Homo sapiens: one gene and its partners. The protein of the gene in region 1 purifies or fractionates together with the protein of each later gene. This does not show direct contact. Each region holds a gene or a part of one and is shown in the gene's direction. Other genes may lie near its edges.

What was found.
Region 2: the proteins of KIF11 (region 1) and ACTR10 purify together in Homo sapiens (affinity purification with mass spectrometry; one large-scale study listed by BioGRID and IntAct). This does not show direct contact.
Region 3: the proteins of KIF11 (region 1) and BRPF1 purify together in Homo sapiens (affinity purification with mass spectrometry; one large-scale study listed by BioGRID and IntAct). This does not show direct contact.
Region 4: the proteins of KIF11 (region 1) and ZKSCAN8 purify together in Homo sapiens (affinity purification with mass spectrometry; one large-scale study listed by BioGRID and IntAct). This does not show direct contact.
Region 5: the proteins of KIF11 (region 1) and TNIP3 purify together in Homo sapiens (co-immunoprecipitation; one large-scale study listed by IntAct). This does not show direct contact.
Region 6: the proteins of KIF11 (region 1) and MTUS1 purify together in Homo sapiens (affinity purification with mass spectrometry; one large-scale study listed by BioGRID and IntAct). This does not show direct contact.
Region 7: the proteins of KIF11 (region 1) and C2orf69 purify together in Homo sapiens (affinity purification with mass spectrometry; one large-scale study listed by BioGRID and IntAct). This does not show direct contact.

What each region holds. Positions count from the first base shown.
Region 1 is NC_000010.11:92,648,593-92,652,853, forward strand, and holds part of KIF11 (kinesin-like protein KIF11), read left to right. Parts: intron 1-1,242; coding exon 1,243-1,394; intron 1,395-1,808; coding exon 1,809-1,925; intron 1,926-4,261. UniProt on the Homo sapiens protein: Motor protein required for establishing a bipolar spindle and thus contributing to chromosome congression during mitosis. Required in non-mitotic cells for transport of secretory proteins from the Golgi complex to the cell surface.
Region 2 is NC_000014.9:58,230,756-58,234,010, forward strand, and holds part of ACTR10 (actin-related protein 10), read left to right. Parts: intron 1-1,310; coding exon 1,311-1,512; intron 1,513-3,255. UniProt on the Homo sapiens protein: Part of the dynactin complex that activates the molecular motor dynein for ultra-processive transport along microtubules.
Region 3 is NC_000003.12:9,738,061-9,742,321, forward strand, and holds part of BRPF1 (peregrin), read left to right. Parts: intron 1-938; coding exon 939-1,898; intron 1,899-2,718; coding exon 2,719-2,881; intron 2,882-3,247; coding exon 3,248-3,379; intron 3,380-3,964; coding exon 3,965-4,111; intron 4,112-4,261. UniProt on the Homo sapiens protein: Scaffold subunit of various histone acetyltransferase (HAT) complexes, such as the MOZ/MORF and HBO1 complexes, which have a histone H3 acetyltransferase activity.
Region 4 is NC_000006.12:28,144,447-28,148,707, forward strand, and holds part of ZKSCAN8 (zinc finger protein with KRAB and SCAN domains 8), read left to right. Parts: intron 1-3,869; 5' UTR 3,870-3,961; coding exon 3,962-4,261. UniProt on the Homo sapiens protein: May be involved in transcriptional regulation.
Region 5 is NC_000004.12:121,136,676-121,140,936, reverse strand, and holds part of TNIP3 (TNFAIP3-interacting protein 3), read left to right. Parts: intron 1-2,252; coding exon 2,253-2,313; intron 2,314-4,251; coding exon of another isoform or gene 4,252-4,261. UniProt on the Homo sapiens protein: Binds to zinc finger protein TNFAIP3 and inhibits NF-kappa-B activation induced by tumor necrosis factor, Toll-like receptor 4 (TLR4), interleukin-1 and 12-O-tetradecanoylphorbol-13-acetate.
Region 6 is NC_000008.11:17,790,807-17,795,067, reverse strand, and holds part of MTUS1 (microtubule-associated tumor suppressor 1), read left to right. Parts: intron 1-4,261. UniProt on the Homo sapiens protein: Cooperates with AGTR2 to inhibit ERK2 activation and cell proliferation. May be required for AGTR2 cell surface expression. Together with PTPN6, induces UBE2V2 expression upon angiotensin-II stimulation.
Region 7 is NC_000002.12:199,917,288-199,921,548, forward strand, and holds part of C2orf69 (mitochondrial protein C2orf69 precursor), read left to right. Parts: intron 1-4,261. UniProt on the Homo sapiens protein: May play a role in the respiratory chain.

The sequences.
Region 1 (4,261 bases):
AGTTTTAATCAAGTGTCATGATACAGGTGGTATCACAATTCAGTATAATTTCACATACTTTCAGGGAGTTGACTTTGTTAATAGGGGATTTTTTAAAACAAATACAAACCTAGCACTGTTTGTAAAAGGACATTTTAATACCACAAATATGGGAGAGATGTAACTGACTAAATCTAGTTTAATGCAAAGTTTACCACATTGTGCATTTTGTTCTGTGTCCCTCTCATTTTGTCATAGACTATTGCCATTTAGGAATCCCTGTTTTAAGAGATCAGGGATCACCATGGACCATTAGCATTTAGGAATCAACATTTTGAGAGATCACATATGGCAAAGATCATTATAGGCTGTAATGATTCAGGGAGGTCTTCATGGAAGAGATGTAACAAGCTGTTTTACACAGCATGAATAATTGGGTTCTTCATTGGATTATGGTAATGGTTGCACACCCTGTAAACTCACTAAAATCCACTGAATTGTACACATAAAATGAGTGTTTTATGGTATGTAAATTATATCACAAAACTCTTTTTTTTTTTTAATTTAAAAAGCAATTGTTAAAAGGGGATGGTGCTACATAGAATGTTGGTTTATTTATTCCCCAAGAGACCTGTAGGATTTACTGTCTACTTTTCAATGAAGTTAGGAATGTAAATGTTGAGTGAAAAGGCAAGTACTTTTGTAAATCATGAGAGCATGAGCTTATTACAGAGAAATATAACTGGGGGCCTGATGCGGTGGCTCACACCTATAATCCCAGCACTTCGGGAGGCAAGGCAGGAGGATCGTTTGAGCCCAGGGGTTCAAGACCAGCCTGGGCAACATAGTATATGTATATAACTAGTTAATATTTAACCACCACACCACATTTATAGTGAAATGATTACTCCTATCAAAGTAATCATGTTGGGAAATCTACTCATTCCAATAATGCTGCCATTTTTTTCAGAACACTATAACTCCTTTTAGAGCTTATAACACATCTTTTATATATCCTCAGAGATGGTAAACTTCATGTTTTAGAGAGTAGGATGAATCTTGAAAACAGTAAAGTCTGTCATCAAATTAGAAAGTATTGTTAGTTGCAAACAATGTCTGACAGGTAGCAAGACTGATCCTCATATATGGCAATTATATTTTTATATTTTTAGAAGACAAGATTAATTAGGAAGTTTTAGGTTTTTTTAAAAATATTTACATCTCATACTTTAATTTTTACCTCTTATCTAATGTCCGTTAAAGGTACGACACCACAGAGGAAAAGTTATTTATACCCATCAACACTGGTAAGAACTGAACCACGTGAACATCTCCTTGATCAGCTGAAAAGGAAACAGCCTGAGCTGTTAATGATGCTAAACTGTTCAGAAAACAACAAAGAAGAGACAATTCCGGTAAATTTAAAGGATCATATTTTATAATAGAACTCTTTTATGAACTCTTGATGTGGCTGACTTCATGTGAAGAATTTTACTGTTTACCCCTCAATCTTACCCCGCCTCTCATTAATGATAGGCCTAGCCCTTAGGCTTGTTTCTTTTAATCTTACTAGTTTTTAAATTATGCTAGTAGATAATAATAGCCAATACTTAATATTGTGCTTAGTAACATTGTTATATAGGAACCTCTACTCTCTATAAAAATATATTAGGAATTATTTTCATTAATTTGTAGACTTTCTAATAATTTTGTTGAGGTTTAACTTTTATATTATACCATGGGCATTGTGTTATACTCAAAGCTGCTGTTACTCTTGTGATGACTTTTAAGCCCTTGGACTTAGTCACTCATCCAGTTTCTTCTTTTAGGATGTGGATGTAGAAGAGGCAGTTCTGGGGCAGTATACTGAAGAACCTCTAAGTCAAGAGCCATCTGTAGATGCTGGTGTGGATTGTTCATCAATTGGCGGGGTTCCATTTTTCCAGGTATGTCATATCAGATAACCCTTCCACATCTGATGTAAGTCATTCATTTACTATTCATTATAAAGGTATTGTTCGTGGTGAGCAGAACAACAAAAACCTTTCAATTATTCCTTAGGATGGCTTGTTAACGCTTATGATTTGAATTATTTACAAAAATCTGATATTGATAAGGGGTTTTCTGTAGAATAAATGAAGGCAGAATTTGACTTAATCTACATCCTTAGCTGATAATCTTTAGCTATTGTATTTATTCCTTTTCTGCTTGCTATATACTCAGACACTGAGAGCAGTCATTTCTCTTCCTTCTACCTTTGACATGTAAGTCTTGGAACCTATCTCTGCCCATAATCAGACTTTGAAGGCAAAGTGATTGAAAAGATTGAGAGACTGGAGGCCTCTTAGGTTATATTAGTGATTTCTCCTGCCTGAGGCTCTTCTCTTGTAAACTGTTGCCCCATGTTTCCTGAGCACCTTGCCTGCTCTAATCCAGTGTAATTAAATCCTGTGACCTCTCCTACCCACTCTTCTTTTTTTTTTGAGACTGAGTCACCCAGGCTGAAGTGGAGTGGCACGATCTTGGCTCACTTAACCTCCGCCTCCTGAGTTCAAGTGATTCTCCTGACTCAGCCTCCCGGGTAGCTAGGATTACAGGCATGCACCACCACACCTGGCTAATTTTTTTGTATTTTTAGTAGAGACAGGGTTTCACTATGTGGGCCAGGCTGGTCTCAAACTCCTGACCTCAAGTTATCTACCCTCCTCGGCCTCCCAAAGTGCTGGGATTACAGGCGTGAGCCACTGTGCCCAGCCCTCTACCCACTTTTTTTTTTCTTTTGAGACGGAGCTTCGCTCTTGTTTCCCAGGCTGGAGTGCAATGGCACGATCTTGGCTCACCGCAACTTCCACCTCCTGGGTTCAAGTGATTCTCCTGCCTCAGCCTCCCGAGTAGCCAGGATTACAGGCATGTGCCACCATGCCTGGCTAATTTTGTTTTTTTTTTTTTTTTTTTTTTTTTTTTTTTTTTTTTTTTTAGTAGAGGGGGTTTCTCTGTGTTGGTCAGGCTGGTCTCGAACTCCCAACTTCAGGTGATCTGCCTGCCTCGGCCTCCCGTAGTGCTGGGATTACAGGTGTGAGCCACCGGCCCGGCCCCTCCTACCCACTTTTTAACACTGTTGAGAACATAGTTGGTTTATGATTCATCTCAGCATTGATGACTGAGTACACAATCAATGTCACCAGTCCCTTAATGTTCTCTATGGGTAAGTAGGAGGATTCCAATGAAATACAACTTCCAAGTGAGGCTCTATAAAGTGCTGGTATCTTTTCCTCTAATTTGAGGGTACAAGCCTAGACAGAGTGTGTGAAGGAAAAATTTCCTTACGTAGGACATTGGTATCTACATTTACAGTTGAAGTTCTACTTCTGAGATGCATATGCTTGTACCTTTTTTTTTTTTTTTTTTTTTTAAATATATATAGAGAGAGGGTCTTGCTATGTTGGCCAGACTGGTCTTGAACTCTTGGCCTCAAGCAGCCCTCCTACCTCAGCCTCCCAAAATGCTAGGATTACAGGCATGAACCACTGCGCCTGGCTGCTTGTACCTTTTTTGTGTGTATGTCTTGTTTTGTTTTTTTGTTTTTGAGACGGAGTTTTGCTCTTGTTGCCCAGGCCAGAGTGCAATTGCCTGATCTTGGCTCACCACAATCTCCGCCTCCCGGGTTCTAGCGATTCTCTTGCCTCATCCTCCCGAGTAGCTGGGATTACAGGCATGCACCACCACACCTGGCTAATATTGTATTTTTAGTAGAGAAGGGGTTTCTCCATGTTGGTCAGGCTAATCTTGAACTCCCGACCTCAGGTGATCCGCCCGCCTCGGCCTCCCAAAGTGCTGGGATTACAAGCGTGAGCCACCGCGCTCGGCCTGTAACTGTTTTTTAATAGATCTACAGCTCCTTCCCTTAAGGTCTAAAGATTCTCCATCCCTGCTTTCAACAGTTAACAAAGTTCCAACTCAGATTCTCATAAATTCCTCCCTGTCTTCCTCTGGGCAATTTTATTCCCAAATTCTTGCCACCTTTTGCTTTATTCCTTACTATTAGAGAACTATAAATATGTTTCTTTCAGTTTTCATCCTTTTCTTCTATCTTATAAAGTTAGGAAAGGGGGAAGGATAAGAGAACCTGGTGACTACTTAATCCCTGGTCAGAAATCGTTTTATTATTATTATCTGTGGCATTTTGAATTAGGCTTAGTGATTCAGCTATGGCAAGGAAGTCCCTACAGTACCAGAAAGGGTTTGGGATGGGGTTTTAGACCTTCAGCTGAAGTCCAGAAAT
Region 2 (3,255 bases), on another chromosome or scaffold:
GACATGTGCTTTTTTTTTTTTTTGAGACAAAGTCTCGCTCTGTCACCCAGGCTGGAGTGCAGTGGCGCGATCTCAGCTCACTGCAGCCTCTGCCTCCCGGGTTCAAGTGATTCTCCTGCCTCAGCCTCCTGAGGAACTGGGATTACAGGCACCCACCACCTTGCCCAGCTAATTTTTGTATTATTTAGAGACAGGGTTTCGCCATGTTGGCCAGGCTGGTCTTGAACTCCTGACCTTGTGATCCGCCCGCCTCGGCCTCCCAAAGTGCTGGGATTACAAGCGTGAGCCACCGCACCTGGCCTTTTTTTTCTCTTTTTTTGACAGTGTTGCTCTTGTTGCCCAGGCTGGAGTGCAATGGCATGATCTCAGCTCAGCACAACCTCCGCCCCCGGGTTCAAGTGAGTATCCTGCCTCAGCTTCCCGAGTAGCTGGGATTACAGGCATGTGCCACCATGCCTGGCTAATTTTGTATTTTTGGTAGAGATGGGGTTTCTCCATGTTGGTCAGGCTGGTCTTGAACTCCCGACCTCAGGTAATCCACCTGTCTCGGCCTCCCAAAGGGCTGTACAGGCGTGAGCCACCAAACCCAGTGACATGTGCATTCTTTTAAGACCAGGGACCAGATTTTTATTTTGTACCTAGTGTGGCTTGTGGTTCCTTCCAATTCAGGGTTGTATAGTATTCAATTTTAAATTCCACAGGACATATGGTAATAATATGTCTCTTTCGTTTAATGACTATGTAATTATAGGACTTCGCATGAAATACCATTGCCTTGGAAGATATGTTTACCTCTAGGGCTCCATTCATTGAAGGACCTTATCATCGCTAACTCTTAAAGAGAACTGATGTAGAACCATAATTTTTCTAGGAGTGTTATCTTCCCACTTAACAACTGGCACTGTGAATACACCTTAGAAAAATTAAATTTCTACATATTTCACTTATCCCAAAAAAGAGAAGTTATTTCTTCTCATGCTCTTTGCCCTACTTAATCATTGCTACCCTGACAGTGAGAACACTCACATATGCCCTATGGAATGTAAAATTCTATGCTTTTAGACTTTAAACTATTTTAAAATCTTTAAAGTTTATGTATATATTTGGCAGTATGTTTATGGTGGTTATATTTGCTACATGAAAGAAACCTTGCTGTGGCCCTTTTTGCGATACAAACGATCACCTGTTTAATCTGTAGTATAATAATAATATGTATAATAATAGTATATTTATGTATATTTTCTTAAGTTCAATCAAGCATTATTTGTACAGTTCAGAATAAATCCTTCTTTTTTTCTTTTTAATAACAGTGTCCGATAGACACCAGGAAGCAACTAGCAGAGAATTTGGTAGTCATAGGTGGCACTTCTATGTTGCCAGGATTTCTCCACAGATTGCTTGCAGAAATAAGGTATTTGGTAGAAAAACCAAAATATAAAAAAGCACTTGGCACTAAGACATTTCGAATTCATACTCCACCTGCAAAAGCTAATTGTGTGGCCTGGTTGGGAGGTAAGAATTTCACTTTTAAAATATAATGATTATATAGTATTTGGTCTCTGAATGACACTATTAATGGATATATTAGAATAAATAATTCAGGGTTCAGAATTGCCCACTTTATAAATAGAACTAACACTGACTTTTTCTTTTTTTTTTTTTTTTTTTTTTTTTTTGAGACGGAGTCTCACTCTGTCGCCAGGCTGGAGTGCAGTGGTGGTGCGATCTCGGCTCACTGCAGCTTCCGCCTCCCGGGTTCAAGCAATTCTGCTGCCTCAGCCTCCTGACTAGCTGGGACTGCAGGCGTGCACCACCACGCCCAGCTAATTTTTGTATTTTTAGTAGAGACGGGGTTTCACCATGTTGGCCAGGATGGTCTCGATCTCTTGACCTCGTGATCCACCCACCTTGGCCTCCCAAAGTGCTGGGATTACAGGCATGAACCACCATGCCCAGCTGACTTTTTCTTAAATTGTATTAATTTTCAGAATTTTATACCTATTTCTCTTGGCATTTGCACCGTGATATTAAGTAAACGTTCTCATTTAGTTAAAGTCATCCCTCAAAATAGTGAAAGCTATGAATTTATTCCAGTGATGCTACCATTTCTTTCTTTCTTTTTTTTTTTTTTTGAGACGTTTCATCTTTGTTGCCCGTCCAGCTGGAGTGCTATAGCGTGATCCCAGCTCACCGCAACCTCTGCCTCCCAGGCTCAAGCAATCCTCCTGCCTCAGCCTCCCTAGTAGCTGGGATTATAGGCGCCCGCCACCACGCCTGGCTAAGTTTTTTGTATCTTTAGTAGAGACAGGGTTTCTCCATGTTGGTCAGGCTGGTCTCAAACTCCTGACCTCAGGTGATCCGCCCGCCTCTGCCTCCCAAAGTGCTGGGATTACAGGTGTGAGCCACCGCCCCTGGCTTACCATTTCTTAAAATGTTCATTTTAATGTCTTCTAAAGCTAGTGAGCCACATATGAAAATTGGCCTCTTTAATTTATGAGTATATTTGTGACTGAGTTCATTAAATGTTTTAAGTAGTGATGGTTTCACTGAAATAAGCAATTAACCTAATAAGTACAGTTGACCCTTGAACAACATGGGTTTGAATTATGTGGGTCCACTCATATGCTGTTTTTTAGGAAATATGCTAGAAAAATTTTGGAGATTTGCAACAATTTGAAAAAACATAGACAAACCATGTAGCCTAGAAATATCAAAAAAATTAAGAAAAAGATACATCATGAATGTATAAAAATATATATACAGATACTGGGCTGTTTATGTGTTAATCGACTATTCATGTTATTGGTAAGACTTCTCAGTCAACAGTAGACTATTGGTAGTTAAGTTTTCGGGGAGTCAAAAATTATACATGGATTTTCAACTGCTTGGGGGTCCACACCCCTAATCCCTGCATTGTTCAAGGATCAGCTGTAACTACTTTGAAGGGAAAAACAATCATGAATATGTACATTTATACAGGTTCTGATATGTGTTTTATGATGCAGTTAGAGCTAGAAGGTATCAGGATTGTGCATTTAGAGAAAGAGTAGTATGACATTTTAAAATGAATGTTACATTATTTCTTGTAAAATAGAATTTGGTCAAAACGTAGTTTTGATCTAGGACAAATTGATTTAGTAATGGAATTGTTTTTAAAAGACTGCCTTGTGGGTCTTAATAAGGTCTTCAGTATAGTATGTTAGGACATTATGATGATGTTTATTGGGTTTTGCAGTACCATTTTATTTATTGATA
Region 3 (4,261 bases), on another chromosome or scaffold:
TAGTTTACAGTGCCAGAGTCTAGGCCACCTATAGCATGCCAGGCAAGGAGCACCTTCTCTGTGTGACAAGCACCGAGAGCAGCCCTCAATTCCAGGCCTGTTGGCATAGTAAGTGATACAGGTTGGACATTAAGAGCACTGGGCTGGAGGTTGAATGCCTCTGCCTCTGCCACTCCCTTGTTATGTGACCTATCTATGTTTTGATTAACTTCTCAAAGCTTAAGTTTTCTTATCTGCAAAATGAGGACAACAAGAACACTAACTCTATGGCTGTGGTAAGAATAAATGTAATAGTTAAGCACAATGCCTGGCTCATAGGAAATCCTCAGTAAACCTTAGCTATTATAATTGTTATCTCCCAAGGCTATCCAGTGAACAAACATAGCACCTAGAGTTTGACGGAGCCTTGAGCTGATGCTGACACTAGCTGAGAGAAGATCCATGGCAGCTCTAGTCGAGGCCCTGCCCACCAGTGCTAAAACAACTTATATGTAATTTGTCAATGACATCCAATGACCTTCCTTCTTCCCCGATTCTTCGTACCATCATCTGGACCACTCTAAGGGGTACTAGCTGCCCCACCTTCCTCCTTTTAGAGGAGGCTGGCTGAGCCTCTGCAACCCCAAGAAGATGGTGTCACATATAGCAGCTAGGACATGAGCTTTGCAGTGGCAGACCTGGGTTCACATCCCAGCTCCACCACTTTCTCACAAGTGAGCTGGGGCCAGGTGATTAACCTTCCAAGCCTTAGGTTTCCTTTTCAGCAAAATAGAAACGATGATAGTACCTATAATATCTGGAGTTAAGGTGAGGATGAAATGAGACAACACATCTGAAGGGCATAGGCACAGAGTAAGTGCTCAATGGCAAATGACCCATCATCTTTAAGGGAGGGAAATCTCAACCATGTGATGCTGAGTTCCCTGTTTGTACCGTAGGTACATCGAGAAGTCTGCAGAGGAGCTGGACGAGGAAGTAGAGTATGACATGGACGAGGAGGACTACATCTGGCTGGATATCATGAATGAGCGTCGGAAGACAGAGGGTGTAAGTCCCATCCCGCAGGAGATCTTTGAGTACCTAATGGACCGACTGGAGAAGGAGTCGTACTTTGAGAGTCATAATAAAGGCGACCCTAATGCGCTAGTGGACGAGGATGCTGTTTGCTGTATCTGCAATGATGGTGAGTGCCAGAACAGCAATGTCATCCTCTTCTGTGACATGTGCAACCTGGCCGTGCACCAGGAGTGCTACGGTGTCCCCTATATCCCTGAGGGCCAGTGGCTGTGCCGCCGTTGCCTGCAGTCACCCTCTCGTGCTGTGGATTGTGCCCTGTGCCCCAACAAGGGCGGTGCCTTCAAGCAGACAGATGACGGGCGCTGGGCCCATGTGGTGTGTGCCTTGTGGATCCCTGAGGTCTGCTTCGCCAACACGGTCTTCCTAGAGCCTATTGACAGCATTGAGCACATCCCACCAGCTCGCTGGAAGCTCACCTGCTACATTTGCAAACAACGGGGCTCAGGGGCCTGCATCCAGTGCCACAAGGCCAACTGTTACACAGCTTTCCATGTGACATGCGCCCAGCAGGCTGGCCTTTACATGAAGATGGAGCCTGTGCGGGAGACAGGCGCCAACGGCACCTCTTTCAGTGTCCGCAAGACAGCCTACTGCGACATCCACACGCCTCCAGGTTCAGCACGCCGACTGCCTGCCCTGTCCCACAGCGAGGGTGAGGAGGATGAAGATGAGGAGGAGGATGAGGGTAAGGGCTGGAGCTCAGAGAAAGTCAAGAAGGCCAAGGCCAAGTCCCGGATCAAAATGAAGAAGGCACGGAAGATCCTGGCAGAGAAGCGGGCAGCAGCACCTGTGGTGTCAGTGCCCTGCATCCCACCACACAGGTATGTGGGGAGCCGGTGGACAGGCAGATGAGGGAGAAAGGAGCCTCCAGGAGAGGAGCTGGCAGCCTCCTGAGTGGAATGGCAGGGCTGGGCTATCTTCCCAGGAGCTGCATAGAAGTTAAAAAGAACATATTTTCAAAACAGATAGTTGTCTTTAGCAGGTCACCTGACTTTCACATTAAGAGCCAGAAATGTCAGCTTTTATCTGGCATAGCTAACAGGCGTTTTGGAACTGCCCTTCATTTTGATGGTGTGGTTTGTTAAGTTGGGATGGAAGAGGATGGAACTGCCACTGGCAGCAATGGAAAAAATGGTCTGAATATGAAGAAACAAATAGAATGAAAAGCGGGGAAGGGGAAGCTCAAGAAGTTGTGAAGTGGTTACTGCTGCTCATTTGGGCTGTGATGGCCAGGGATTTTTTTAGTTCTCTTGTGCCGTTTATTTGATTTACTATATATTTCTGCTGTACAGTTGTACTTCATTTTAAAACCTTCAAAGGCTCAGTCTCAGTGGGGCTCCCAGGGTCAAATAGTACTCTGGGCTGCAGTGACTAGAGCAGTCTTAGGGGCAGAAGTCCCTGATTGCTGGTGTACAGGGTTAGGGATCTGGTTTAGTGCTGGGAGCTTGGTTTCCTGTCTGCCACGGTACCACTGATGGCACCACTCTTTCTTCCTTGCCTTAAGTCCAGAGTCCCAGGCCTTTTGGACAAGAGATCCTCTCCCTTCATCCCCATTCAGGAACTTTCACTGGCCAGAGACCCTTGCTCTGCTTAAGAGAATCAGGGCCCAACAAGTTTTACTCTTTGTTTCCTGCCTCCCAGGCTTAGTAAAATCACCAACCGCCTGACCATCCAAAGGAAGAGCCAGTTCATGCAGAGGCTGCACAGCTACTGGACACTGAAGCGGCAGTCACGGAATGGGGTCCCATTGCTACGTCGCCTGCAGACACACCTGCAATCTCAGAGGAACTGTGACCAAGTTGGGGTACTGTGTCCAGTTCCCTGTGGGCTCTGGGAACTAGCGCCAGGGGGACGAAAACCAAAATTTGCAACTGTAGTTTCCAGTGTCAGAGGGCTTAGACTCTTTCCTCCTTTAAGCTAGCCCTCAAACCAGGATCAGCATGGAATGTTCAATGAAAAGATGTTGTTCCTATGTGTTTATGTATTCATTCAACAAACACATACCAAGCATTTATTCTGCCAGGCCTTGGGGACACACAGATTGAGGCACTACCAATAAATTACTGTGCTCCCTCTTTTGGCTTGACCTGAGTTTCCTGGGCTCTCTTCTCCCTGTTGACCTTTCCTCTGGCTTTCTAATCATCCTCTGATCTTCGTTTTGCCTCTACAGAGAGATTCTGAGGATAAGAACTGGGCCCTTAAAGAACAGCTCAAGTCCTGGCAGCGGCTCCGGCATGACTTGGAGCGAGCTCGGCTGCTCGTGGAATTGATCCGCAAGCGGGAAAAACTCAAAAGGGAGACGGTGAGTGCTCCTGGGCCAGCCCTATTTTATAAAAGAAAAAACAAAAAATTAGCCAGGCATGGTGGCAGGCGCCTGTAGTCCCAGCTACTCGGGAGGCTGAGGCAGGAGAATGGCGTGAACCTGGGAGGAGGGGTTTGCAGTGAGCCAAGATCGTGCCACTGTACTCCAGCCTGGGCGACAGAGCGAGACTCCGTCTCAAAAAAAAAAAAAAAAAAAAGACCCAGGAGAAGGAATAGCGTGTGTACCCCAGCCAGATAGCAGCAGGGCTGACGCTGGAGTCAGGTCTCCTGGTGCTCGGTGTGCTTTTAGTTCTGCTGGAAGCAGAATGTCACAGGAGCGTATGAACAGAATCCTCAGTTATGTGACATAGGTAGCTGGTGCTGGTAGTTCAAGAAAGGGGGAAGCCAGAATTGTTGGTGCAAGTTTCCCTGGGTGGAGCCTCATAGAAGGTAGACCTGTATGAGTACACCCAGCTGTGAGGGTGGGAAAGAAGGCGGGTTCCCAGGCCAGCTGGGACCATATCCTCAGACCTCTTTGCCACTGAACTGGCCGAGGCCTGGCTGATCAGGCCTTTTTCTATGTTAGATCAAGGTTCAGCAGATTGCCATGGAGATGCAGCTGACTCCTTTCCTCATCCTCCTTCGCAAAACCTTGGAGCAGCTCCAAGAGAAGGACACAGGCAACATCTTCAGCGAGCCGGTCCCTCTGTCTGAGGTAACCGAATTGGACGAAGTAAGAATCCCTTCCCCTCACTCCACCTTCTCTCTGTTCCTCTCCCAGTTGGACCCCTGCTGCAGGTCTGGGCCAGGACTAGATGGGGACCTTGAAGAGAGGGGCTGGTGGCTCTGGGGCAGGATGAACTGGAGCCACATGTATCACCTG
Region 4 (4,261 bases), on another chromosome or scaffold:
TTTCCTAAGTACCTATCTCTTCTTTGTGGACTATAGGTCTCTGGTTTTATCTTGATGTTAGCATCTCATGACAACTGGTTTAGGGTATGCTACCTTTACTTACACTCTTCTTCATTCTCTACAGTATCTTTGAAATACAAAGATAATGGTCACCTCTGTCAACAAACATTTGCAATAAGGCCATGGCCACATTCTCACAATGTGATAAGTCCTATATTTGGACCATGTTAAAAATGCTTTGGTAGGAATGACAAATGGCAGGGGGATGACAGAGAAGAACTCATGAAAAAGGTAATAGATAAATTAGAGTTAAGAGTTGAATGATTTTAGGCCGGGCACAGTGGCTTACGCCTGTAATCCCAGCACTTTGGGAGGCCGAGGCGGGCAGATCACGAGGTCAGGAGATCGAGACCATCCTGGCTAACACAGTGAAACCCCATCTCTACTAAAAATACAAAAAATTAGCCGGGTGTGGTGGAGGGCGCCTGTAGTCCCAGCTACTCGGGAGGCCGAGGCAGGAGAATGGCGTGAACCCGGGAGGCGGAGGTTGCAGTGAGCCGAGTTCGCGCCACTGCACTCCAGCCTGGGCGACAGAGCAAGACTCCATCTCAAACAAAAAAAAAAAGAGTTGAATGGTTTTAGCTGGACCAAGATTTATCAACCTTGGCATTGACACTTTGGGCCAAATAATTCTTTGTGGTGGGGGCTGTGTTGAGCATTGTAGGATCCCTGGCCTCTATGTACAAGATAATAGTAGCACCCCTTACCCCCAAGTTGTGACAACAAAAATATTTACAGACATTATGAAAGGTCCCTGGGATGGGGGTAAGGACAATATTGCCATCAGTTTTGAACCACTGAGCTAGAGTAAAGAACTCTGTAGTAGAATGGAAGTATGAGAAAGCCACAGCCCAGAAAGGCTTTATGTAAGTGAGTTTAAAGTAGATATAGCCAGCCAGGTTTACATTCATAAAGGGCCTTGCATACCATGCTAAAAAATTTGGTCCCTATTGAAATATTTTCAGGAGGTGAGTCATGTTAGTCATATTACATATTTTTAAAAAATCTCTGGCAGTACAGGGCTACTGTAAAAAAAAAAAGTATCATAAACCTGGTAGTTTAATAGAATAGACACTTACTGTCTCATAATTAGGAAGGCTAGATGTCCAAAATCAGAGTGTCGCCAGACCCATGCTCTTCTAGCTTCTTGTTTTTACTGACAAACTTTGGCATTCCTTGGCTTGCAGCTGCACAACTCCATCTCTGCTTCTGTAGTCACTTAGCTCTCATTCATCTGTGTGTGTGTGTCTTCACATGACCTTCTCCTTTCTCAGAGTCTGTCTCTGTGTCTTTTTTCCTTTTAAAAGTGTGCCAGTCATATTGGTTTAATGGCCTACCCATTCCAGTATAACTTCATCTTAACTTGATTACATCTGCAAAGCCCCATTTCCAAATAAGGTCACATCCACAGGTACTAGAGGTTAGAATGTCCGCATATCTTTTTGAGGGACACATTTCAACACACAGTAGGCAATATTGTGGAACATGAATGGGAAAAAAGCATAACCAAAGTTACCATTGCAGTTCTAGGCAAGAGATGATGTCTATACCAAGGATGGAAACCATAGACATATATTTCACAAAGAAATAGGATCATGAAATTGAACTTTTTTCGGACATCAGGTCTTGTTTCTAAATCTCACTCTTACAAGAAATATAAACATGTTCTGTGTTTGCAATTGTAAATATGGCTAATGTTCTTCGATTCTATCAATAAGATAAAAGATATGGACCTTTGCCCATGGGGAAAATACAATTAAGTTTTGAAGTCAGAATTCCTTTGGAACTAATAAATATACAGTTATGGGAAAAGTAACATTAAAGCAATACACATTTAAGTAACAGAGGTATAGAATGAGAGGAAAATAATTTCCAATTGGAGTCACCAGGAAAGGATTTTTAAAGGCAACAGTATTTTATCTTGTCCTTTAAGAAAGTAGTGTCGGTACTGATGAAAGAAGTCAAAGAAGACTTCAACGGAGAGACACATTGTGTTCACGGAATGGAAAACTCACTGTTGTTGAGATATCAGTTGTCCCTAAAATGAGCTATGGATTCAATACAAATCCAATTCAATAATTTTTTGTAGAAATTAATACACTGATTCTAAAATGTGTATCAAAAGACAACAGAACTAGGAAAGTGAAAATAATTTTGAAAACGAACAACAAAGTTGCAAGACCCACCTACTTGATTTCAAGATTTTAAAAGTTACACAATCAAGACTATTCTGTATTGGTGAAAGAATAGATGTATAGGTCAATAAACAGAACAGAGATTCCAGAAATAGACCCTTACATATACATACATATAGTGAACTGATATTTGACAAATATACAAAGACAGTTAAGTAGATAAAGGAGAATCCTTAAAATGAACCTCCATCCATACCTCAAATTCTATATAAAAATTAACTCAAAATGGATCATAGGCCTAAATGTAAAACCTAAAACTATAAAACTTTTAGTAAAAAACAGGAGAAAATATTTGTAACCTTGGATTAAGCAAAGATTTCTTAGATATGACATCAAAAGCACAGTCAATTAAAAAAATGAACTTTTTTTCTTCAAAAGGCCCTATGAAAAGGATGAAAAAGAGGGAATACTTGCAAATTACATATCTCATAAAGGACTTGTGTCCAGAGGATGTAAGAAACTCAAAACTTAATTTTAAAATAACTAAATTTAAAAATGGGCAGAAGTTTTGAACAAATACTTCACTAAAGAAGATATATAGATGTTAAATAAGCACATAAAAAGATGCTCAACATTATTAGTCAGTAGAGAAATGCATACTAAAGCCATATGAGATATTAAAACCATAATGAGTTGCCACTACACATACACCTATTAGAATATCTAAAATTAAAAACAAAAACAATATCAAGTGCTAGTCAGATTGGAAAACAGTTTTGCAGTTTCTTATAAAGTTATACATATATGTATTTTATGACACAGCAATTTTACCTCTGAATATTTGCCCAAATAAAATGAAAACTATATTCACACCAAAACTCATGCAGATGTTCATAGTGGCTTTATTCATAGTGATTAAAAAACAAAAACAACTCAGATATTGTTCAACTGGGAAATGGATAAACATTTAAACATTCCCACTCCAGAATCTCACATAAATAAAATCATATAGTATGTAGCCTTTTGAGTGTGGGAGTAGACTTTTGGGTTGTAGTTGTCAATAGGGCATCCAGGTTCCTTGGAGTGCTCCATAGAGAGTTTCTGAGTTGGAGGTCACGTCCATAGTAGAGGAAGTTAACCTTGAGATAGGAGGAAAGATGAGGGGCACAGGTAGGATAAGGAATGTTAGGTGGAGAAGAGCAAAGTGTTAGGAAAGTTTTTGACAATACCTTGAATTAGATTATGTAGAAATTAGTCTCATCTGTTAAGAGTAAGGGAAAGGTTGAGAGCTGAAGCGTGTAGAACCAGATTAGTACAGCTGGTGTATCAAAGACTAAAAGGGGTTAAATGAGCAGCCCTGAAGGCCAGCTGAGATTAAACACAAAATTTCAACTAGACCCAGTCTACATGGTTTCCTGACTTTGCTTAGCCATGTTCCACATCCCCAAACAGGGTGATGAAAGCAGAAGGAAGGGGTTTTTCTATGGATGGGTTTGGCATGGCTGGCATGACAGAAAGTTAAGGAAGTAAGAAGTTATTTCTGGAACAGTGGGGAGGATCATTTAATTGGCCGAGCCATGAAGTCCGTGTCATACTAAGGAACTTGTTAAGATACCATAGTTAGTTACAATGACTTTTGACTTGCCTTAACACTATCATATTTTCTTCATGAAGAAGTACCCTTAGAAAGAGGCCCTCAGAAGAGTCTTCTCTTAAGAAGATAAAGAAGGTAGTGGAAACGAACTTCCTGAGCTTTTCAGGCTCTAATGGCTGAAGAATCAAGAAAGCCTTCAGCCCCATCCCCACCAGACCAGACTCCTGAAGAGGATCTTGTAATCGTCAAGGTAGAGGAGGATCATGGTTGGGACCAGGAATCTAGTCTGCATGAAAGTAACCCTCTTGGCCAAGAAGTGTTCCGCCTGCGCTTCAGGCAGTTACGCTACCAGGAGACACTAGGACCCCGAGAAGCTCTGATCCAACTACGGGCCCTTTGCCATCAGTGGCTGAGGCCAGATTTGAACACCAAGGAACAGATCCTGGAGCTGCTGGTGCTGGAGCAGTTCTTG
Region 5 (4,261 bases), on another chromosome or scaffold:
TCCCAAGGGAGGAGATAATGACTCTTTGGGTGGCTGAAGGAATGTGAGGATTTAATGAGCATCTCTTATTTGACCCTGGTATGACACAGCACACCGCTAAGAATTGAGTCTTTTCATGTTATTGCGGGTTGCTAGTTCTGTCTGCTCTCCCTCCCCCTTTTCCTTTTTTTTCTTTACCTGTTTGCTTACTTTTCAGTCTTTACCAATAACATTAAATTTTTTTTTCAAGAATGTAGAAGTCAACTCAGATTGTGAGAAACATAAAGAGAAATTTACTGTAGGAGTGAATTAACCTATAGGAGTTGGCTTCTACAGGTTGGGGGATTGGAGAAATATTCTTATGAAAGGTTAACTATAAAACCAATCAGTCATTCACATTTACCTAGGAGTACAAATTATTGTTTCAGTCAAATATTTCTTTATGGAAAGAAGGAAGGAATTCACCTACTATAGCTCATCAAACAGTCCATGTCAATTAAAAAAGGCAAGGCAGTCCAGGTCACATAAAATTGTCACCAAATAAAGGCCTATATTTGAAAAAGGACTCCAAGCCATGTAGAATGGCCTACATTTTCTTTCTTTTTTTCTTTTTTCTTTTTTTTTGAGAAGGCATCTCGCTCTGTCATCCAGGCTGTAGTGCAGTGGTGCGATCTTGGCTCACTGCAACCTGTACCTCCTGGGTTCAGGCAATTCTCCTGCCTCAGCCTCCCGACTGGCTGGGACTACAGGCACACACCACCACACGTGGCTAATTTTTGTAATTTTAGCGGAGATGGGGTTTCACCATATTGCCCAGGCTGGTCTCAAACTCCTGACCTCATGATCCGCCCACCTTGGCCTCCCAAAGTGCTGAGATTACAGGCATGAGCCACTGCGCCTGGCCAGAATGGCCTACATTTTCAAGCAGTAGTCAGATGAAAAAAATCTCAGCATAACAGTAGAGTTTACAACCAAATCCTCAAAGTTAATTTAAAAATAATATTTCATGTTTCTTGTCTATATCGAAGGCTGAATTAAGTCACATGCTATAGTGTTGGTAACATTACAGGATATTTACCTTCTCTTGGCAACTCTCCTGGAATATAAAACTGAGGCTCACGTCACTTATCCTATGTGTTATTTGAGACATCTAAAAATAAACGAGAAGATAAAAAACAGAGGTGATCTCATTTCCTCTTCTAGCTTTTTCATAAGCCAGAGGAGCCAAGGGCCTAGGTGTCTAGAGTAGGGGTACAGTGGGGTCAAACTGCACTAAAAGCAGCATTTCTCAGTGTCTTATTGAGTAATTGAACTTTCTGGGCTACTTTCAGTGGTCTGGCAGCCTTGTAAATGCTCTCTGTTGGCTCATGTTAGAAAAATTTTCCTCAAGTTATTTTTAGGAGATAATTGAATTACAGAACAACAAAAAAATCTATATTCTCTGTGTCTTGTGGAGAAGTAGGAGGCAGGGGTGAGCATTCAGAGCAGAAAGACAGACCTGCTTTGTGGGCAGGTAAAGCTGAGATTGCTCCATTCCTAAGCGTTAAATACAGAGGTGCTGGCCTTGGAGATATCTTGATGATTCAGGCCTATGGGTTTACTATTTATTCAATGCAATTTGTTCGACATTCAATATCTAGCTGTTCTTAACTGGTGTAAACCTAGGAGAAAATCCCAAGAGAAAAATCTTGTCTCTGTAGACTAAACTATATGAGCAATTTAGAGGATAGGTTCTGCTGGATCGGTTCTTCACAACAGCAAAAAGGGAAAGATTTGCCCTGCTTCACCATCCTGAACTTCTGTCAATGCCAAATCCCCATTTAATAGCTTAAATTTCTTCCTTAAACCATTAGAAAACTTGTATTAAACTTTTTTTCCTGGCCTTCTCATTGCCTCTAGTGTGAGGGTCTCAAAAAGAGTATTTGTTGATGCTAAGTTGCTTTGTTTTATTGATGGGCTGTAGTAAGTTTTACAAGTGTTTATACTTCTGCAGATATTCAAAACACATCTGTTTCAAAAAAAGAAAGAAAATATGTCACAACCTCAAAGTGGTAGAAATTCTGGCCAAACACAGAGTGGATTTAAGAGGGGGTAGGGAGAGATGATGGCAGTGATGGGGGGTAAGCAGGATGAGTGAGGTTGGCAATAGGTTTGGATAGAAATTACTTTTGTGTTGCCTGCTTAATAAAAGCCACATAGCCTAATTGTATTTTTGACATGCCACTATATTTGAAGTCCATATTGCTATAATAATGTTGTATTGTTCCACACAGCCAGACTATCAGTGGTATGCTCTTGACCAGCTTCCGCCAGATGTACAACACAAGGCAAATGGTGAGACCACAGCTGTATTGAGCATTCTTTCATGTTTACATCTTAATGGGATCTTTTGGGGATGTTTACTCAACATACATTCATTCGTACTTGGGGAGGACTTACTATAAAGTTGTGTTACATACATAACTTTAATTTGATGCACCTGGGGTTAAATTGAACTCCTTAAGACAAAGAAAATGTGCGAATGCAGAAATGCATGAACCTCAATTCTGGCTTCTGTTCCTTTTTCAGTCTCAGAGTCAGAATTCCATCTGGGGTTAGAAATGAAAACTGTAAGCAGAGCTGTATTATAACAACAACAAAGCTCTGCAATTGTACTACAAAGCACAGATGCACACCCACTATTCCAGGTTGAGTTTGCTAGACAGATGTTTTAAATGTCACTGGCAGACAGACAGAGGAAACCAAAGGCTCGGAACTGTGTTCCCTTATGACTAAATGTCAGACTCCAAGGCAGGGCTCTTAGTTTAGGCCAGGGTTGCCCACAACGCCCACCTCAAAGTATGCTGGGGAAAACTAAAAGTCACTTATGAAGTACTCACAACTAAGAGTACTTTTTTAAATCTTATTTTTTATTGATTTAACATTTTCTGTTTTCTTTCTAGAATCTGCTATACTTTCTACTGCTTGTTTCTATGGTCTTGTGAGGCCACCCAGAAGCGGGCTGTATAAACTGAGCTATAATCAAAATCCCACTTCTATTCTCATCAAGTATACATAATCAAAAGTTAGAAATGTCTGCTACATGTTTAAAGTCTCATATGACACACACCTGGGACTCTAACTTGTTAATTTCCAAAGATTTGAATCTATCTAAAAATGCTGAAGATGAGCTATGTAGTCTAATTTCAGGCCATTCTTGAAATTTGATCTCGTTTGAAGTCAGAGCTGAGATCACAGAAATCTAGTTTTTAATACAAGGAGTCTGTTATGGAGTGTAAATAGGGAGTCAGGGACACCACATGTAGTTTTGCAGGTTGTGAACTTTACAAGTCTGAGGGGCTCATCATGGTACTCTATGTGAATGGAGCCTGCTGAAGTACAATACGCAATCTGGACAGCTGTACACAGCAGCAATGGGAGTGACAAAGGCCATAGATTACAACAGCATCATAGAAAAGAAATATGAAATGTGAGAATTCCATAATAAAATATCCAGGTATTTATCAAAACACTATAGGACTCTCTTTTTTCTTTGCTTTCTACTACAAATATAGCCAGTGGTTTTAATGAAGTTCTTGAGTTCCAACAATAATGGAGTTGTTTTATTAGAAAGGCATACCATTAACCGGAATGTGTGTTGCATAATATATGCAATTTTAAAATCTATTATGGTATAATAACAGAATTGCTACCCAATTATAATTTTCCATTTTATATTGCTCTGGAATGACTATTAAAGATATTTTCTTTCTGAATTGGAGTTTAATAACTGGAAAATAAAATTACTTAGTACAGAATTTAGTAATACCATAAGGTCATTTATATATCATTATTAGATTCTTGCTGGACCAATATTACACAAGCTAATGATTACATAAAATAGAAATGAATTGTGATGACATTCAGAAACTAAATAGAATATGCAATAATGAAATGTTGTAGTCAGTGTATGAGACTTACTGATTTTTGTCTAGCTAGGAAAAATGTAGTGAGCTTTGTGATGTATAAACATACCATGTAACAGTGTCTACAGATGTAAAACTACAACAAAAAAATCTCCATGATGTACCAACCTAAGCTTTTTTTTTTTTTTTTTTTTTCGGAGACAGTCTTACTCTGTCACCCAGGCTGGAGTAGTGCACTGGTGTGATCATAGCTCACTGTACCCTTAAACTCCTGGGCTCAAGAAATCATCCCACCTCAGCCTCATGAATAGGGCTACAGGCATGAACCACCATGCCCAGCTAATTTTTATTTTTATTTTTTGTTCAGATGGTGTCTT
Region 6 (4,261 bases), on another chromosome or scaffold:
TATTTCTTCACCTTATTTCAGATAAGCAGTTCATAGGAGGTATTCAGCAGTGTTCAGTGACAAATAAGAAATTTATTTTCCTTAATGTTTATTTTGTAGATTTTTGCATGATTGTTAGCTATGAATGATACGAAGTTGAAACTGCATGTCCTCGTAAAACATAGCTCCCTTGGCTAGCTTTACGGAATGAAAATAGAAGCCAGCATAGATATGAGCAGTTTCTGAGATGACATTGAAACATAGACCTACCCCCTTCCCCTGACCTCTGTGTCAAGGTGGTTGAGTCATATTTCCCAGAATTCTGATTAAGTCACCTTGCACTGTTAAAATCTTATTTTTTATTATACTGTAAACTGCTATACTGTTAATCATTTCGTTGTTAATCAAATTACAGAATTGAACCATATTTGCTTATTACTGTGACCCTAAGCCAACAGGCTTTAATTGAAGTGAGGATTGCAGAAGTCCTCCTTGCTGGTGGGTCAGGATAGGGTAGAAGGATATTGGAGAATGAGAAATGGATTTAAAAGGGCTGAGCCATGCCAAGACCTAGCTACCAAGAAAAATTCACGTGTTGTATTAGATCCCCAATCTAGGCCCCACATACAGAACCAAGTCATTTATACGTAGTGTATAGTTAGGCTTATATTTCATGTAAAATGATAAATAAAAAGCATGAGTAAAAATCCTTGCTGTTAGAATATTATGTTTGATTTTTTTTTCTTTTATCTTTTTTTTTGAGACAGAGTTTTGCTCTTGTTGCCCAGGCTGGAGTGCAGTGGCGTGATCTTGGCTCACTGCAGTGTCCGCCTCCTGGGTTCAAGCGATTCTCCTGCCTCAGCTTTCTGAGTAGCTGGGATTACAGGCATGCACCACCACGCCCGTCTTCATTTTTTATTTTTAGTAGAGACAGGGTTTCACCATGTTGATCAGGCTGGTCTCGAACTCCTGACCTCAGGTGATCCACCGGCCTTGGCCTCCCAAAGTGCTGGGACTACAGACGTGAGCCACTGTGCCCGGCCTGTGTTTGGTTTTCCTCAGCCTCAGCCATTTTTGAGCACTTTCTATGGGCCAAACACTGAGGTAGAAGAGAAAAAAAAGAATTTGACCTCTTTTCTTGGAGGAGTCAGAGAAACCCCAATCATTGTGAAAAGTGCAGTTTTGGAGATGTTAGTAAGTGTTTGTGTTGTTCGAAATATTCTCCCAGGTTGTTAACGTTGGGCTTTGCATTAAAAATTCCACCTGCTGACTTGACCAAAGTTTGGTCACGTAGGTTGTATTGACATTCTTGGTTATATAAAGCATCCTTGTCATTAATCATGCTTACCCTTTTCCTTCTCACCAAAAGGATTAAGAAGGAAAATACTTAGCACTGTACTCTTTGGCGTCTCTTAATTTCTCTCAATGAGAATCTTTAGTTACCTTTTCCAGTATATTTTTGCTACATCTTGTAAGCTCCTTAAGGATAGGGTCTAAATGTTCGGATGCTGGGTACATTTTTACTTTTATAATTATTTCTCCCAGATGTGGTCTGGAATAAATCATCTAGAGCTCTGATGGCATGGGAATTTGAAATTCTTTTGTCAGATAGTCACAGCTACTGGAAGGTCTTTTAAACCACAGGTATTAATTTCCTTATTGCTTTTCTGTGCCTTGCTCCTTGCCCTCTCCTCTTGCCCTCACCCCCTCATCCATTGTTTCATACTCAGCAAGCAGAGGGAAGGTAGTTTACCCTCAGTCTTGTGTCCGACTGAACGGCCATGGCTTTGGGAGCAGAGCATCAGAGCTGGAAGGTGCCAAGTTTCCTGATGCTTCTGAGTTACTGTTTTATTATGAAGAGTCAGTTTGAGAACATCTGGCATACCCATGTGCAAATACATGTACGTAATTGATTCCACTCATGATTTATGACATTCCCTATTCGTGCAGACAATCGCAAGTTGACAATTTCTTTTGACTAGGGACTTGGGCTGTTTTCTGTTTAGAGAAAAATGTATGTACAACTTAGGAATTCAGATAACTTTGCAGTCTAGGATTCTTTTTTCTCATTACATCTAATAAGATTTGTGTTTCAGAGTAGTTTTGCATTTATGTAAAACTTTTCAATAGTTCTCTAGACTTGCTGGTTATTGAACTTGATTTAATGCTGTGAAGAAGTATTTTCTGTTTAAGGGTTAAAAAATTGTTTTGCTTTCAGATTTTTTTTGAGACAGAGTCTTGCTGTGTCACAGGCTGGAGGACAGTGGTGTGATCTCGGCTCACTGCAACCTCCGCCTCCCAGGTTTAAGTGATTCTCATGCCATAGCCTTCTGAGTACCTGGCACTACAGGTATGCGCCACCGCGCCTGGATAATTTTTGTATTTTTGGTAGAGACAGAATTTCCCCATGTTGGCCAGGCTGGTGGCAATCTCCTGGCCTCAGGCGATCTGTCCACCTTGTCCTTCCAAAGTGCTGGGATTACAGGCGTAAGCCACCATGCCCAGCCTTCTGATGTTGCTTTATAGTGTTTTTGATGGCACCTCTGCAAAGGGATTTACTTACTCTTAATTTGAATTTAAAAGAGTAGGGTCAGTTAATGAAAAGGGAGGTAAGAAAAATCCTACATTTCTGTTTCTATGAGAAAACCTAAACCATTTTATATTGCAGATAAGACTATTTTGTTGGAAAGTTCTGGTTACAGCTTATTAGGCTGAACATTTAAAAATGTATAACCTTGTAGATATATAATCAAATGAAAACTATTTTCTCCTTATATGGTGTGAGTTGTTTTGATCTTGAATGATTAGCCCTCCATCCTTCAGTGCTAGGGACTGCTTTTCTTCTCTCCTTCCTCCTGTTTTTATTGAATTTCAAATAATAAATAGAGGTATTTCACCATTTAGCTAGATTTTGCCCACCATGACATCCATTATGAAACCCTGGGGACATACTTTATTATAGAATTGGAAAAATGTAATGGGTATCCAGGACATTTGGTGCAGTAATGTCATAGAGAGTGCACAGACTTAACAGGCAAAATTGGGTTCATGTCTGAGATTTTCCTATTAGCCATGTGACCTTGAGTGAAATTTCATTACCTTTGCTCCCCAGTTGGCTCATCAGGACGCTGGAAGGTGGGGGTAGTACCTTGTCTCCTGGGGTTATTCTGACACAGGTGCCAGGTATATAGAAAATGATCAATGGGTGCTAATAACCTTCCTTAGTCTCTAGTTTTAAATTAAATCTTCTGATTCATAGATAGGTGTTTCATTTAATTTCTGCTGCTTAGCCTTGGAGGTGTTGCTTGGATCTGCTGGTGCTGTCGGTTGGGAGTTAAATTCTAGGCTCAGGAGGCTGATAACTTTCCCTCTTCCTTAGGAGGAATTGATTTGTAGCAAACATTGGAGATTGTTTATTCTCAGACTCCAGCTTTGTCACCTCTTGTTTTTCTTGAAAGTTTAAGTCTAGTGAGCTGCTGATACTCCATTTGAACTGTGTTTTCAAAAAATCAATGTAGATACTTTTATCTTTGGTAAAGTCTGTAAATTATGTTGCCTCTTTGCTATCAGTCAGCACATTCGAAAGACAATTGAGTCATCACTTTGAACTAATCTTGGACTTGTGGATATTACAGTACTAAGGTTCCCTGTTCTGATTTTTCACCTGTAACATAGTCCAGAATATTTGTATTTTAGAGTTTCAATTGTAAAATGTTACTATTAATATACAGTATTTAAATATAAAAGCAATTTTGTATTTTCATCTTTTAAGCATAGTGAAATATTAATTCCCTATGTTTGTGGCAAGCACATTGTAAATATGATATTAAGAACTGATCACATCAGCCCTGCGGTTGGGCAGAGCAGGTCATGAGTGCTTTCTTTTATACTGAAGGAGACTGGGGACCAGAACTATTTGGATAAATGTTTTGTCTTATGGCGAGTAAGTTATGGAACTGGGACTGGACTTGTACCGGTCCATTTCCCACACCCAGTATGATGCTGTTATTTGACTAGTTTTAATGCGAGTGGAAGTAATAAGTTTCTGTTGCCAGGATTTTCTATACATTGGTGCTGAAATGGGATAAAACTTCTCCCCGCCCCCACCGATAGTTTGCTTTGTCACCCAGGTTGGAGTGCAGTGGTACGATCCGGCTGACTGCAACCTCCACCTCCCGGATTCAAGCGATTCTCCTGCCTCAGCTTCCTGGGTAGCTGGGATTACAGGTGCCTGCCATCATGCCCGGCTAATTTTTGTATTTTTGATAGAGATGGAGTTTCA
Region 7 (4,261 bases), on another chromosome or scaffold:
ACATGCCCTGGAGACATTTTTCCCATTATCTTGGTGATGAACATTTGGCTCCTCGTTACTTATGCAAGTTTCTGCAGGCTGCTTGAAATTCTCCTCAGAAAATGGGTTTTTCTTTTTTTATAGCATCGTCAGGTTGCAAATTTTCCAAACTTTTATGTGCTACTTCCCATTTACATATAAGTTCCAATTTCAAACCATCCCTCTCAAGGTCAAAGTTCCACAGATCTCTGGGGCAGGGGCAGAATGTTGCCAGTGTCTTTGCTAAACCATAACAAGAGTGACCTTTGCTTCAGTTCTAAAAAGTTTATTATCTCTGTCTGAGACCAGTGCAGCCTAGACTTCATTATCCAAATCACTATCAGCATTTTGGTCAAAGCCATTCAACAAGTCTCTAGGAAGTTCCAAACTTTCCCACATTTTCCTGTTTTCTTCTGAGCCCTACAGACTGTTCCAACCTCTGCCTGTTACCCAGCTCCAAAGTTGCTTCCACATTTTTGGGTATCCTTATAGCAGCACCCCACTCTCTGCAGTACCAATTTACTGTATTAGTCCATTCTCATGCTGCTAATAGAGACATACCCAAGACTAGGTAATTTATAAAGCAAAGAGGTTTAATTGGCTCACAGTTTCACAGGGCTGGGGGTGCCTCTGAAAACTTACAGTCATGGTGGAAGGGGAAGCAAACATGCCCTTCTTCATATGGTGGTAGGAAAGAGAATGAGAGCAAAGAGGGGGATGAGCCCCTTATAAAACCATCTTGTAAAAACTCACTGTCACCAGAACAGCAGGAGGGTAACCGCCCCATGATTCAATTACCTTCCATCGGGTCCCTCCCATGTGGGGATTATGGGAACTACAATTCAAGATGAGATTTTGGTGGGGACACAACCAAACCATATATCCATAGTATTTTGTATTTCTTTAGGTACCTATGTTTTTCTCATCTAGCAATAATGATTTTGAAGGGTGATCAAGATTTTTTTAAAGTAGGTGCTTTCCATTTTGAGTTATCTTTTTAAAGCCTTGGGTATATAATTATATGTATCCCCTTTATTTTACTGTATTTTAATTTATTTATTATCATTATATTTTCAGACGGAGTCTTGCTCTGTTGCCCAGGCTGAAGTGCAGTGGTACAATCTCGGCTCACTGCAACCTCCGTCTCCCGGGTTCAAGCAATTCTTGTGCCTCAGCCTCCTGAGTAGCTGGGATTACAGGTGTGTGCCACCACGCCTGGGTAATTTTTGTATTTTTAGTAGAGACGGGGTTTCACCATGTTGGTCAGGCTGCTCTCGAACTCCTGACCTCAAGTGATCTGCCTGCGTGGGCCTCCCAAAGTGCTGGGATTACAGGTGTGAGCCACTGTGCCCGGCCCTTGTATTTTAAGTAAGAGTACAATTTTGTGAATTTTGACAAGTGTTGGAATTATGTAACCACCAAAATCATGTTGTAGAGTATCTCCATTATCCTAAAAAGTACCTCCGTGCTCCTTTATGGTCAGTTTTCTTTTCCCAACCACTAACCTGCTTTCTTTCACTATGGTTTTTGCTTTTTCTAGAATTTTGTTAATTTGTCATATAGTATGTAGTCTTTTGTGTGTGACTGTTTCACTATTTAATACTTTTGAAATTCATCCATATTGTTACCTGTATCTGTAGTTTTTTTCATTGTTCTTTTTTGTTGAGACAGGGTCTAGCTCTGTCAACTAGGCTGAAATGCAGTGGCGTGAACATGGCTCACTGCAGCCTCAACCTCCCAGGCTCAAGCGATCCTCCTACCTTAGCCTCTCAAGTAGCTGGGACTTACAGGCATGCACAATCACACCTGGCTAATTTTTAAAATTTTTCGTAGAAACGAGGGTCTCATTAGGTTGCCTAGGCTGGTCTCAAACCCCGGGGGTTAAGTGATCCTCCTGCCTTGGCCTCCCAAAGAGCTGGGATTGCAGGCGTGAGCCACTGTGCCCAGCCAGTAGTCTGTTCCTTTTATTTACAGAGTAGTATTCTATGTATGGATATATACTTTGTTTATCCATTCAGCAGTTCATAAACATTTGAGTTATTTCCAGTTTTAACTCTTTAAAAGTTTTGCTTTCCTAAAGGTTAGGATCTATAGACGATCATGCCCTAAGTGGTGTCTCCTGGTCATGTACCTTGGAGCTTCCTGTGCTTTATCAGGCAGCTCTCTTAGGCTGGACCCTGTTCTGGTCATTCTAGCCTGCTTACTTCAGATGTGCACTTTATGTTTATAATAAACAGAAATTTATTTAGCTCATGATTCTGGAGGTTAGGAGGGGCCTACATCTGGTGAGGGCCTTCTTGCCCTGTCATCTCATGGTGGAAGGCAGAAGGGCAAGAGAGCACTAGGGAGTGGAGGAGGGGAAGGAGAGGCCAAATTCATCCTTTTATCAAGAACCATTAATCCATTCATGAGGGCAGAGCCCTTGTGACCTAATCACCTCTTAAAGATCCCACCTCTAATCATAGTTGCTTTAGGGATTAAGTTTACAAAACATGAACTTTGGCGGACACATTCAAACCGTAGCAGAAGTTCACTCTGCTCTAAGGGCAGAACACTTAGTTTGAATCTATCATTTGTCTACCAACTCTTAGAGACACATGTCAAGATTTCCTAAAAATCCATTGTTCGTTACTTCAATAGCAGTTTGGAGTGGGTCTCTGAGTTTTTGCAGGTCAGCAAGCATCTAACTGGAGTAGTAGGCATTCTTTAAACTCTCAAGAGATTCTCTTGTGGCCTGCCTCACTGGGGATGAGAAGCATGGCCTTTCACCCCTTACCTCTTATGGGGATAGTAGTGCATTGCATTCCCAACTAGGATGAAAACTCTCTTGAAAGAAATCTCTCTCTTTCCTTAGTCTTTAACCTTTTCTGTAGATTGGCCGTGGGTAACAGCCTCAGTTGCAGAACCAGTTTGGGCTACCTCTTAGTAACTCCTAGAGGGGTGTCTGGTGCCTCTTTTTAGAATATGAAAGTGTGTTTCCATTGTTCCCAGATCTGGGCTTTGACACACAGTAATGATTCCATCTTTACATTTTACTGCATACAGTTCCTTAGAATAAGCATTCTCCTTCCTCTAATCGTGGAACCTGGGGCTAATCAAGGAAAATATCATGTTTCTAGATTTAGAGCACCTTCTATGTGGTAGGACTAAACTGAGAGTCATAAAATCTAGGTTCATTTTGGCTCATTAACTAAATAAATATATAAATAACTGTAGTTTCCAGGACCTCAGGTTCCTTAACTATAAAAAGGATTTAGATGAGCCCTTCGAGATGTAAGTGCCTATGATTTCATGATAATTGGATATATCATTAATTATAAAATAATTGTGCAGAAAGCAATAGCAGAATCCATAAAAAGTCAAATGATGGGCCAGGCGCGGTGGCTCATGCCTGTAATCCCAGCACTTTGGGAGACCGAAGCGGGTGGATCACGAGGTCAGGAGATGGAGACCATCCTGGCTAACATGGTGAAACCCCATCTCTACTAAAAATACAAAAAATTAGCCGGGCATGGTGGCGCGCGCCTGTAGTCCCAGCTACTCGGGAGGCTGAGGCAGGAGAATGGCATGAACCCGGGAGGCAGAGGTTGCAGTGAGCCGAGATCTTGCCACTGCACTCCAGCCTGGGGGACAGAGCCTGAGACTCTCAAAAAAAAAAAAAAAAAAAAAGTCACTTGTTGGCCTTCTAGGAATTAGTTTTTTTTTTTTTTTTTTTTTTTGAGGTGGAGTCTTGCTCTGTTACCCAGGATGGAGTGCAGTGGCGCGGTCTTGGCTCACTGCAACCTCCACCTCCTGGGTTCAAGCGATTCTTCTGCCTCAGCCTCCTGAGTAGCTGTGACTACAGGCACGCGCCACCATGCCTGGCTAATTTTTGTATTTTTAGTAGAGACGGGGTTTCACCATGTTGGCCAGGATGGTCTCCCATCTCCTGACCTCGTGATCCGCCTGGCTCGGCCTCCCAAAGTGCTGGGATTACAGACGTGAGCTACTGTGCCCGGCCTGGGAATTAGTATTTTTAACATATATGGCAAACTACTAATATTAGTGAAATGTAACTTAGGAAGGAATTGAACATCATAGTGGGAAAATTATCACAGGACATGAACAGAAAATTAACAAAAGAAAAATGAAAACTGCCAGTTAACAATGTTTAACCTGATTGGGAATCAAAACATGCAAATTAAATCAAAAGTAAGATATCATTTTATCATAGTAGCGAGGATTTTAAAAAATTGATGCTAAT